3 separate regions of the Homo sapiens genome follow, and all the other regions are reported to be linked to region 1. Evidence: microRNA targets listed by miRTarBase, many of them from high-throughput screens and not tested one by one. Region 1 holds a microRNA gene; each other region holds the end of a gene's coding sequence.

Evidence for each region. The annotated mature microRNA hsa-miR-515-5p reads UUCUCCAAAAGAAAGCACUUUCUG and lies in region 1 at 1,160-1,183, shown strand. An mRNA with a match to its seed (bases 2 to 7 or 8) in the 3' UTR can be bound and repressed. Matches are read on the target gene's strand: a 7mer-m8 pairs with bases 2 to 8, a 7mer-A1 pairs with bases 2 to 7 and ends in A, and an 8mer does both.
Region 2: miRTarBase lists ZNF107 as a target of hsa-miR-515-5p. Seed matches in the 3' UTR shown: 7mer-A1 at 2,701-2,707 and 8mer at 1,352-1,359.
Region 3: the mRNA of SLC24A2 is a reported target of hsa-miR-515-5p. Seed matches in the 3' UTR shown: 7mer-A1 at 1,768-1,774.

Annotation. Positions count from the first base shown.
Region 1 is chr19:53,677,857-53,681,215 of GRCh38, forward strand. It overlaps MIR515-1 (microRNA 515-1), which reads left to right and starts at 1,147; the gene lies at 1,147-1,229. It overlaps MIR519E (microRNA 519e), which reads left to right and starts at 2,084; the gene lies at 2,084-2,167. The region is part of intron 2 of LOC107985342 (a long non-coding RNA gene); the gene reads left to right. RefSeq lists an enhancer at 1-339.
Region 2 is chr7:64,708,295-64,711,653 of GRCh38, reverse strand. ZNF107 (zinc finger protein 107) reads right to left here. Exons shown (of 4, transcript NM_001282359.2): 4 at 77-3,359. The coding sequence ends at 2,998. Among named protein-coding and RNA genes, the nearest start is that of MIR6839, 31 kb to the right of the region's middle.
Region 3 is chr9:19,513,673-19,516,672 of GRCh38, forward strand. It overlaps SLC24A2 (solute carrier family 24 member 2), which reads right to left. Exons shown (of 11, transcript NM_020344.4): 11 at 1-2,730. The coding sequence ends at 2,481. All of the region lies in intron 4 of LOC105375988 (a long non-coding RNA gene), which reads left to right. Among named protein-coding and RNA genes, the nearest start is that of MAP1LC3BP1, 52 kb to the left of the region's middle.

The DNA of each region.
Region 1 (3,359 bases):
ACCCCAGTGGTCCTTCCTGCCTGGACTTAGGATCTTTTGGGGAAGTTTGGGATCTGGCAGGGCATCTGCATAATCCATAGAAATCCCTGAGAGTCACTTCCCTTGGCTGACATCTCCATGTTCCTACCCATTACCTTCCAAAGGAGACCCTTAACTGAATTACCAAAGGGGGCTTCCCAGAGCAGGGAAACCCGGTTAACTTTCTATTTCAGGTCAACAGTATACTTGAGATGTACTTGAACTAGAAATGATTGGTTGTTTAGGTGTGGGCATTTGTTTTTCCTAACTTAGTCTCCAAGAAAAAAAATTATTGAGGTTTTACAGCCTAGCCTGTGGTCTATCCTGAAGAATGTTCGTGTGTGTGACAATGTACATTCTTTTTTTCCCCCCAGCTCTGTCAAATCTTACTGAGGAGCTTTTACGGCCTAGCCTGTGGTCTGTCCTGGAGGGTATTTGTGTGTACAACAATGTATATTCTTAAACATTATCTTAGATTCCATTTTGGATGTTCCCATCAGGACTGTGTGTTTCTGTGCTGGAACTCAAGTGAACACTGGCTCAACATCCTTAGAAATCCAGCCCAATTCTCTTGGTTAAAGATAAGGTATGTGTGGTAGGCATTGCTTTTTCTCTTTGGGGACAAAACTCAGGAGGATTGCCCCTTGATGAACAAGGCTAACCTGCTAAGCCTTTGAAGCAAGGAACTGGAGATGGTCCTTTCAGGGGTTTATGTTCTGGATTCCATAAAACATGCAAACAGGGGCAATGAATGCACCTTTTTTATTTTTATTTTTATTTTTTTTTGAGATGGAGTCTTACTCTTGCCAGTCTGGAGTGCAGTGGCACGATCTCGGCTCACTGCAACTTCTGCCTCCTGGTTCAAGTAATTCCCCTGCCTCAGCCTCCCGAGTAGCTGGGACTACAGGTACATGCCACCACAGGCGGCAAATGGTTGTATTTTTAGTAGAGACGGAGTTTCACCATGTTGGCCAGGATGGTCGTGGTCTCTTGACCAGCCTCCCAAAGTGTTGGGATTCCAGGCGTGAGCCACCGCGCCTGGCCAATGAATGCATCTTTATTTTTGTGTTCATTTTAATCTGGTAAGGTAAATTCCAACAAAAAACCCAGAGTTTTGGAGTGAGAAGATCTCATGCAGTCATTCTCCAAAAGAAAGCACTTTCTGTTGTCTGAAAGCAGAGTGCCTTCTTTTGGAGCGTTACTGTTTGAGAAAAACCACGTTGAAGTTGATGCTGATCTTGGTAACACATTTGCAGAGCGTGCTTATCATCAGACTTGCATGATGTTGGGGTTCTGTTTTTGTTTAGTTTTTTTGCAACACAGGGTCTCTTGCCCAGGCTGGAGTGCGGTGACACTTCCAACCTAGACCTCTTGGGCTCAGTTGGTCCCTGCCCCCACCCCCTCCCCCTTTTTTTTCTCTTGAGACAGTCTCTCTCTGTGGCCCAGGCTGGAGTGCAGTGGTATGTTCTCTGCTCACTGCAACCTCTGCCTCCCGAGTAGCTGGTATTACAGGCACATGCCACCACGCCTGGCTAATTTTTGTATTTTTAGCAGAGACGGAGTTTCATCATGATGGCCAGATTAGTCTTGAACTCCTGACCTTAGGTGATCCACCTGCCTCGGCCTCGCAAAGTGCTGGGATTACAGGCATGAGCCACTGTGCCTGGCCCACAACGTATATTCTTAAATATCATCTTAGATTCCATTTTGGTTGCTCCCATCGGGACTGTGTGTCCCTGTGCTGGAACTCAAGTGAACACATGGCTCAAAATCCATTGCTGTTCTCTAGAAATCCAGCCCAATTCTCTTGGTTAAATATAAGGTATGTGTGGTAGGCTTTGCTTTTTCTCTTTGGAGACAATACTCAGGAGGGTTGCCCCTTCGTGAACAAGGCTAACCTGCTGAGCCTTTGAAGCAAGGAACTGGAGATGGTCCTTTTAGGGGTTTATGTTCTGGATTCCAGAAAACATGCAAACAGGGACAATGAATGCATCTTTATTTTTGTGTCCATTTTAACCTGGTAAGGAAAATTCCAACAAAAACCCAGAGTTTTGGAGCGAGAAGATCTCATGCAGTCATTCTCCAAAAGGGAGCACTTTCTGTTTGAAAGAAAACAAAGTGCCTCCTTTTAGAGTGTTACTGTTTGAGAAAAACCACGTTGAAGTTGATGCTGATCTTGGTAACGCATTTGCAGAGCGTGCTTATCATCAGACTTGCATGATGTTGGGGTTCTGTTTTTGTTTAGTTTTTTTGCAACACAGGGTTTCTGTTGCCCGGGCAGGAGTGCGGTGGCGCTTCCAACCTAGACCTCTTAGGCTAGTTGGTCCCCCCTACTTTTTTTGTTGTTTTTGTTCTTGAGACAGAGTCTCACTATGTGGGCCAGGCGGGCAGGCAGTGACACATTCTCTGCTCACTGCAACCTCGGCCTCCCAAGTAGCTGGTATTATAGGCACGTGCCACCACGCCTGGCTAATTTTTGTATTTTTAGCAGAGATGGAGTTTCACCACATTGGCCAGGTTAGTCTTGAACTCCTGACCTCAGGTGATCTGCCCGCCTCTGCTTTCCAAAGTGGTGGGATTACAGGCATGAGCCACCCTGCTCGGACTGCAGGGTGTTTTTTTTTTTTTTTTTAATTATTATTTGTATTTTTTTGTGCTGCCAAAGCAAGCACTTGTGTGTAGGAATTTTGTTTGTTTGTTTGTTTGTTTGTTTGAGATGGAGTCTCATTCTTGTCGCCCAGGCTGGAGTGCAGTGGCATGATCTCGGCTCACTGCAACCTACGCCTTCCGGGTTCAAGCGATTCTCCTGCCTCAGCCTCCTGAGTAGCTGGGATTTCAGGTGCATGCCGCCACCCCGGCTAATTTTTGTCCTTTTGGTAGAATCGGGGTTTTGCCATGTTGGTCCGGCTGGTCTCAAACTCCTGACCTCAACTAATCCACCTGCCTCGGCCTCCCAAACTGCTGGGATTACAGGCATGAGCCACCGCACCCGGTGAGGAGTTATTTTTAATGTGAGCAAACAGTATATTCTTTTTTTTTTTTTTCATAGACAGGGTCTCAACAATATATGATGTATATTTAATCATATAGTCTTATCATGTATATAATGTAGTCATATGTACACCAAACCCTGTTCTACACACGGAGAATACTCTTGTATCACTTTGGGTATTTATTTACTTGTTTCTTTCTGTGTTTTTCTTGTTTGTTTGTTTGTTTTGTTTTGAGACAAGGTCTAGCTTTATCACCCAGGCTGGAGTGCAGTGGTGCCATGTCGACTTACTGCAACCTCCACCTGCCACCTCAGCCTCCTGAGTACTTGTCTACAGGTGCGCACCACC
Region 2 (3,359 bases), not on the chromosome of region 1:
GTGTATGTAAATCAAAACTAAAATGCTGTATGTTTGCAGGCAGAGAGGTCACATGTTCAAAGAAAAATATATAACATTTTTTAAATGTTTATTCAGAACTCAGAATTTTCTCATGGTTTATTTATACTTGTATATAATTTTTATTATAACCATAAAATGACCCTGTAGTAACGACTGTACATTCTAAAGTATCTAAAAGTGCAGAATTGGTTTGTAATACAAAGGAGAAATGCTGGAGTTGATGGATACATCTTTTGCCCTGATGTGATTAATACATAAAATTATATGCCTGTATCAAAATATGCCATACATGGCATAAAGATATACACATACTATGTATCCACAAAAATTAAGAGAAATAAGTTTAAATTTTAAAAAGAATAAAAATCTAACCTATGGGAACAATATTCTTTATTAGCAGTTTAAAGTCACTAGCAAAAATAATTATTAGAGATGTTAGCCCATTATGTTATCAAGTAGTATACTGTTACCCTCTTTTACCTAAACCCTTGAGTAATGTGGGATAGGTAAAGTCAGTGGCATGAAAACACTTCATTGAATGCACAATAGTTTTAACATGTTAAAAAAAGTTTAATTAAAAAACTAAGTTCACGCATAATCCAAAAATTTTTAAACACATTGCATTTTATTACATAAAAGTACAAATAGTAAAATGATATACTACTAATTCACTTTAATTTTAACTAAGATTAAAAATGGTTTTCTCTTACTATAATGCAGAAGAATATTGCTCTGAAAACCTACTTCATGGATCACTCAATATTATAAGTTAAACACAAACAGCCTCTTCACTCAGGTTTTCATCATGCATCTTACATTTTAATGTCCTTATTCTTTCATAGAAAGTGTCATAAATAATACCGACCTAACAGAAATGATTTCTCATATCTTTGATGCATGAAAAATTAATCACATGCTTTCACATGTGAATACAATAGGAATGAAGAGCATGAATTTGAGTTGAATTACATCATTTGCTTTTCAAAAACTAATTTTTCAAGAAAAAATATAATTTGAATGTAATTATACATCTACAAAAAAATTCTACTTCTTTTAAAGTTATATACACATTATTTACCTACCAACTTTAGTTTTAAATTATTTTCTATACTCAGCATTCTGATTCTATACTCAGCAATGTCTGAAGTGTCAGTACCTTAGATATTTCTACTGTGAATTCTCTGATATTTATATAGACTTAATTTTGGATTAAATTATTTTTATATTTACTTCACTTGCAAAAATATATTTTAGTATGAGGCCTCTGGTATTTTCTAAGCTGTAGTTTTTTAAAAAATGTTTTCACAAATGCATTACATTTACAGTGCTTTTCTCCAATATAAATTTTCTGGTGTTGAACAACATTTGAGCAACTGCTTCATGGTTTTCCTCTAGTGCAAAATGGGTACAAAAGTATCTGTGATACAAGTAAAGGTACTACAACCCTCTTCGTATTTGTATTGTTTGTCCTCACAATGAATACTCTTTTTTTGTTTTGTTTTTGAGACGAAGTTTTTGCTCTTGTTGCTTTGGCTGGAGTGTAGTGGTGTGATTTCAGCTCACTGCAATCTTCGCCTCCCAGGTTTGAGCAATTCTCCTGCTTCAGCCTCCCAATTAGCTGGGATTACAGGGGCCTGCCACCACACGCAGCTAATTTTTGTAAAATTTTTAATAGAGATGGGGTTTTGCTATGTTGGCCAGGCTGGTCTCAGACTCCTGCCCTCAGGTGATCCACCCACCTTGGCCTCCCAAAGTGCTGGCATTACAGATGTGAGCCAGCACAACTGGCTCCTCTTCTTCACTTTAAAGGCTTATATTTTCTGAAAGATCTCTTGACAAAAATTGCATTTATAATGCTTTTATTACGTACTAACTCTCTAATGTTGAGTAAAATCTGAGCAGATAATAATGGCTTTTCCACATTCCTTGTATTTGTACAATCTTTCTGAAGTATAAATGCTTTCCTGTGCAATAAGGGGTGAGCATTTATTAAAAGTGTTGCCACATTTTTTACACTTCCAGGAGTTTTCTTCAGTATGGATTCTTACCTACAATCAAGTGTGACAACCATTTAAAGGCTTTGTGATATTTTTCACATTTCTAGGATTTTTCACCAGTATGATTTATGTTAGAAAGTTCGAGGTGTTGTCAAAATTATTGTCACATCATTCAGGTTTGTAAAGTTTTCAGTATTATCTTATGTTTAGTGAGGTTTGAGGATTGGTTTAAAGTATTGCCACATTATTCACATTTGCAGGGTTTCTCTCAAAGTATAAACTGTCTTATATGTAGCAAGGTGTGAGGACCAGTTAAAGGCATTGCCACGTTTTTTACATTTGTAGGGTTTCTTTCCAGTATAAATACTCTTACATGTAGTAAGAGTTGAGAATCAGTTAAAAGCTTTGCCACAGACTTCACATTTGTAGGGTTTCTTTCCAGTATGAATTTTCTTATCTACAGTTAAGGGTTAAGGAAGGTTAAAAGCTTTGCCACATTCTTCACAATTGTAGGCTTTCTCTCCAGTATGAATTTCTGTATAGTAAGGTATGAGGATTGGTTAAAAGCTTTGCCACATTCTTCACAACTATAGAGTTCCTCTCCAGTATAAATTATCTTATGTGTAGAAAGGTGTGAGGACTGATTAAAGGCATTGCCACATTCTTCTCATTTGTATGGCTTTTCTCCAGTATGAATTACCTTATGTTTAGTAAAAGTTGAGGATCAGTTAAAGGATTTGCCACATTTTTCACATTTGTAGGATTCTCTCCAGTACGAATTTTCTCAACTTTCAGTAAGGTTTGAAGATTAGTTAAAAGCTGTGCCACATTCTTTACATTGTAAGGTTTCTCACCAGTATAAAATACCTCGTGTGTGCAGAAAAAGTTGAAGACTTGTTAAAGGCTTTAACACATTCTTCACATTTGTAGTTTCTCTCCAGTATGAATTTTCCTATGTGTAGTAAGCTTGTAGGATCAATTAAGTTTTGCCATACTCACATTTGTAGGGTTTCTCTCCAGTATGAATTTTCTTATGTGTAGTAAGATTTGAGGATAGGTTGAAAGCTCTGCCATAATCTCCACATTTGTAGGGTTTCTCTCCAGTATGAATTATCTTATGTATATTAAGAGATGAGAACTGGTTAAAGGATTTGCCACATTCTTCACATTTGTAGGGTTTCTCTGAAGTATGAATTTTCTTATGTGTAGTAAGGTTTGAGGATTGGTTAAAAGCTTTGCCACATTCTTCACATTTATAGGGTTTCTCTCCAGTATGAATTTTCTTATGTGCAGTAAGGGTTGAGGATAGGTTAAAAGCTTTGCCACATTCTTTACATTTGT
Region 3 (3,000 bases), not on the chromosome of region 1:
GCATCAGGTCTCCTTCAACTTCTGTTTTACATGGTCTGTTTGCAGTTGAGTCAGTCACCTATTTAAACCTTATTTCAAACAACGCACCAGTCAATAATATAAAATTCACACAATAACCAACTTGGTTGCCCTTCAAGAAATACACAGGGAAAACAACTGGAGTTTTTAAACGTAAAGTTCACTTCCTCATTCTTTCACTCTCTAAGGAAGCAGGACAAATTCTTGCCCCAGTACAAAGTCCTGACCTTGATGAATGAGATTCATTCCCATTAGGTGGCAGGTTCCACTCAGCGCCTCTATTGGATGGTGTTTCAATGTCTTGGAAGGCATTGTCCCACATCTGAAGACCCCAATCTGCCGAGTTGGAGAGACTTGAAAGCCAGCCTCCGACTGGCAGCCATCTTGATTTCTTGTTTTCCCAGGGGGCCTCGGGTTTGAAGTGCTTTTTACTTCTGGGTGAAGAGGAATGATGGGCATTTCCTGTTATTGCCATGCTCTGTGGGGTGAGCTGAGGTTTTCTGGAAGGAATACTGAGCTTGATCTGGGGCTGTCAGGTTACCTTTCCTCTTATTCTGCTGTGAGTTCTGCATCCTGTCCTCTTATGTTAAGAGGTATGTGCTCACAACAAAATCATAGCAGGCGTCAATGACAGAATAGATTGGAGATAGGAACACATATGGTGAAATTTCCCATATGCCATATGTACCAACTTAGACGTAGGATGGGTACAGAATAATGAACCATCCTTGATTCAATTTTTCAACTGATTTTAAGGAAAGCATGACTTGGAGAAAAGAAAAGTGCTCTACATAGTTTTCCATTGATTCAGTTTGCCTATTTTTTCCCCCTTGCTGGCTTTATTTTCGACTGACATAGATCTGAGAAAACACACAAGGTGTCATACAGAACTTGGGGGCGTGGAATATTTTAATTTCATGCATTCAATGTAATGTTGAGCAAAATCAAGAAATCAAATTGTTGGAGTGAATAGCTTGAAACCAGTATAAGGAAGCTGTCAAATACCGTGTACTCTAAAACTTAGACAGAATCCCAGATAAGGTCTTGATGGAAGAAGAGACATAGATGTTACAAGAACTTTAACCAAAGCCTGGTCCTGGTACCACTCGACCTGGCACTCAGAAACCTTCCTGGGGTGCACTGAGTGTGCAAATGCCTTTCCAAGCATCGCTAAGTTGCCTCAACCCAAGCAGTGCTGATCAGAGTTAAGTTAGTGCTATTGGGAATAATGATTTCTTCAGACACTAAAGCCCTTTATGACTACACTGGAAAACGTTTTAAAGAACTATGCCCTTACATCCCATTAGGTGGCAAGGCCCACTAAGCACCTTTACTGGATGACTTCTTATTGCACATCTAGGCTCTCTTGGCAGCCCTTAGCATCAAAATATATCTACATGACAATCACAGCTAAACTTACCCCTCTTCTTTTGATGATAATGGGACATGCGCTGGAAAAATACAGGTTCAGTTTATATAGTCTTGCTGTCCTAGAAAAAGCACTAATTTGGTTTGTAGTCATATTTTCTACTTGCATGCTGGGACAATATAAGAACAAAACAAAACAACCCAACCCTGGTTACCTCCCCACTTCCCCAAACCAAGCCACCCAGCCTGGGTTTTTACCTCTTTCTGTCCTAAGTACCCTGAGTTTCTTGGTCAGGGTACTCTGGTGGAGGTGGGCAGATAGTCTCTCTGTTTGGCTTGTAGGAATGTTTTGGAAGGCTCAACTCAGGGCCCCTACAGACCTTCTCCACTAAGCCCTCCTCCCTGCAAGCTATTTCCCTAAACCATCTACCTTACTAGGCAGGATCACAGCAAGTCCAAGGTAGGCTGAAGGTCACAGCAATGCTACCTTTGTCTTGTTGGTTCCATTAGTTCACCTCTTGTACTTAAGAGGTAAAGCCCAGACTGCAAGTTGATGCCCCTCTTCAAATAAGTACTATAAATATACTAGAGCTATCCCTGAAAAGATGCATTTGTACTTTTATATATATCTGATTTTATATATATATATATAATTTTTCTTTGTCTTTATTTACAGGTATGTACTAATCTATAGGTATGCAAGGAGAGGTATAGTACAGGAACAGGCAGGATTTGTGTGTTCATGTGCGTATATTTATAATATGTGTATTTATAGATATATATAGCCTGTGTCCTTGTTTGCATCGACTGTACCTCCGACCAGCGAGGTGTACTTGTCAGTGGTGAATAGGGAGAAGCCCTGTATTGACGGTTCTCTTTGTCTTTTACATGAAGTCATTTCAGTAGGCAGGGTGGAAGCAGCCTGTGAAGTGAATGGGCCCAGTGTGAATCCATCTCTCCTCAAATTCACCAAGGAGGGACACTTGGCACCCAGGGCTGTGTGCCAGCTGCCTCTTCTCAAGAGGTCAAGGAGCCCAGAGCCCAGAGTGTGGAGGGACCATTCATGCTGCTGGTGCAAGATATGGCTTTTCCTGCTAGATGGAGACGGGGCATGTAAGAATTCTGTCTTCTAGGAGAACGCTCACCACCAGGAACACAAAGTAGAGGCCAAACATGATGAAGCCCAGGATTTTGTTCATTCGCCACTTGCAGAGGGCGATAGAGAGGATGACGAAGAGCAGCATGATGAAGAGAAGGACGATGGCACAGAAAAGGCCATTGCTGCTGACAGCCACTGGCTGGAATCTGTGAATGACGGTGTACAGGAGCCAGGGCAGTGGGAGCCTGTGCAGAAGTGAAGCAGGGCAGAGGGGAGTGGGAAGACAAGGGAGTAGTCAGACACGTTGAAGAAGGCAAATATAACCTATTATTACCTTCTCAGGAACTCTAAACTGAAAAGGGTGTCTTGTTAGGTTCACTATGACTCGGGCATGGTTGGCCCAGGAAACCACTTTATAAGGAAATAAGACTTTAAAAACCTTTATGTCCTGACTGAATTCAGAACAGGGAGAACAGTTAGACAACATCAAAGACATGACTGCTGTGGGTGATTTC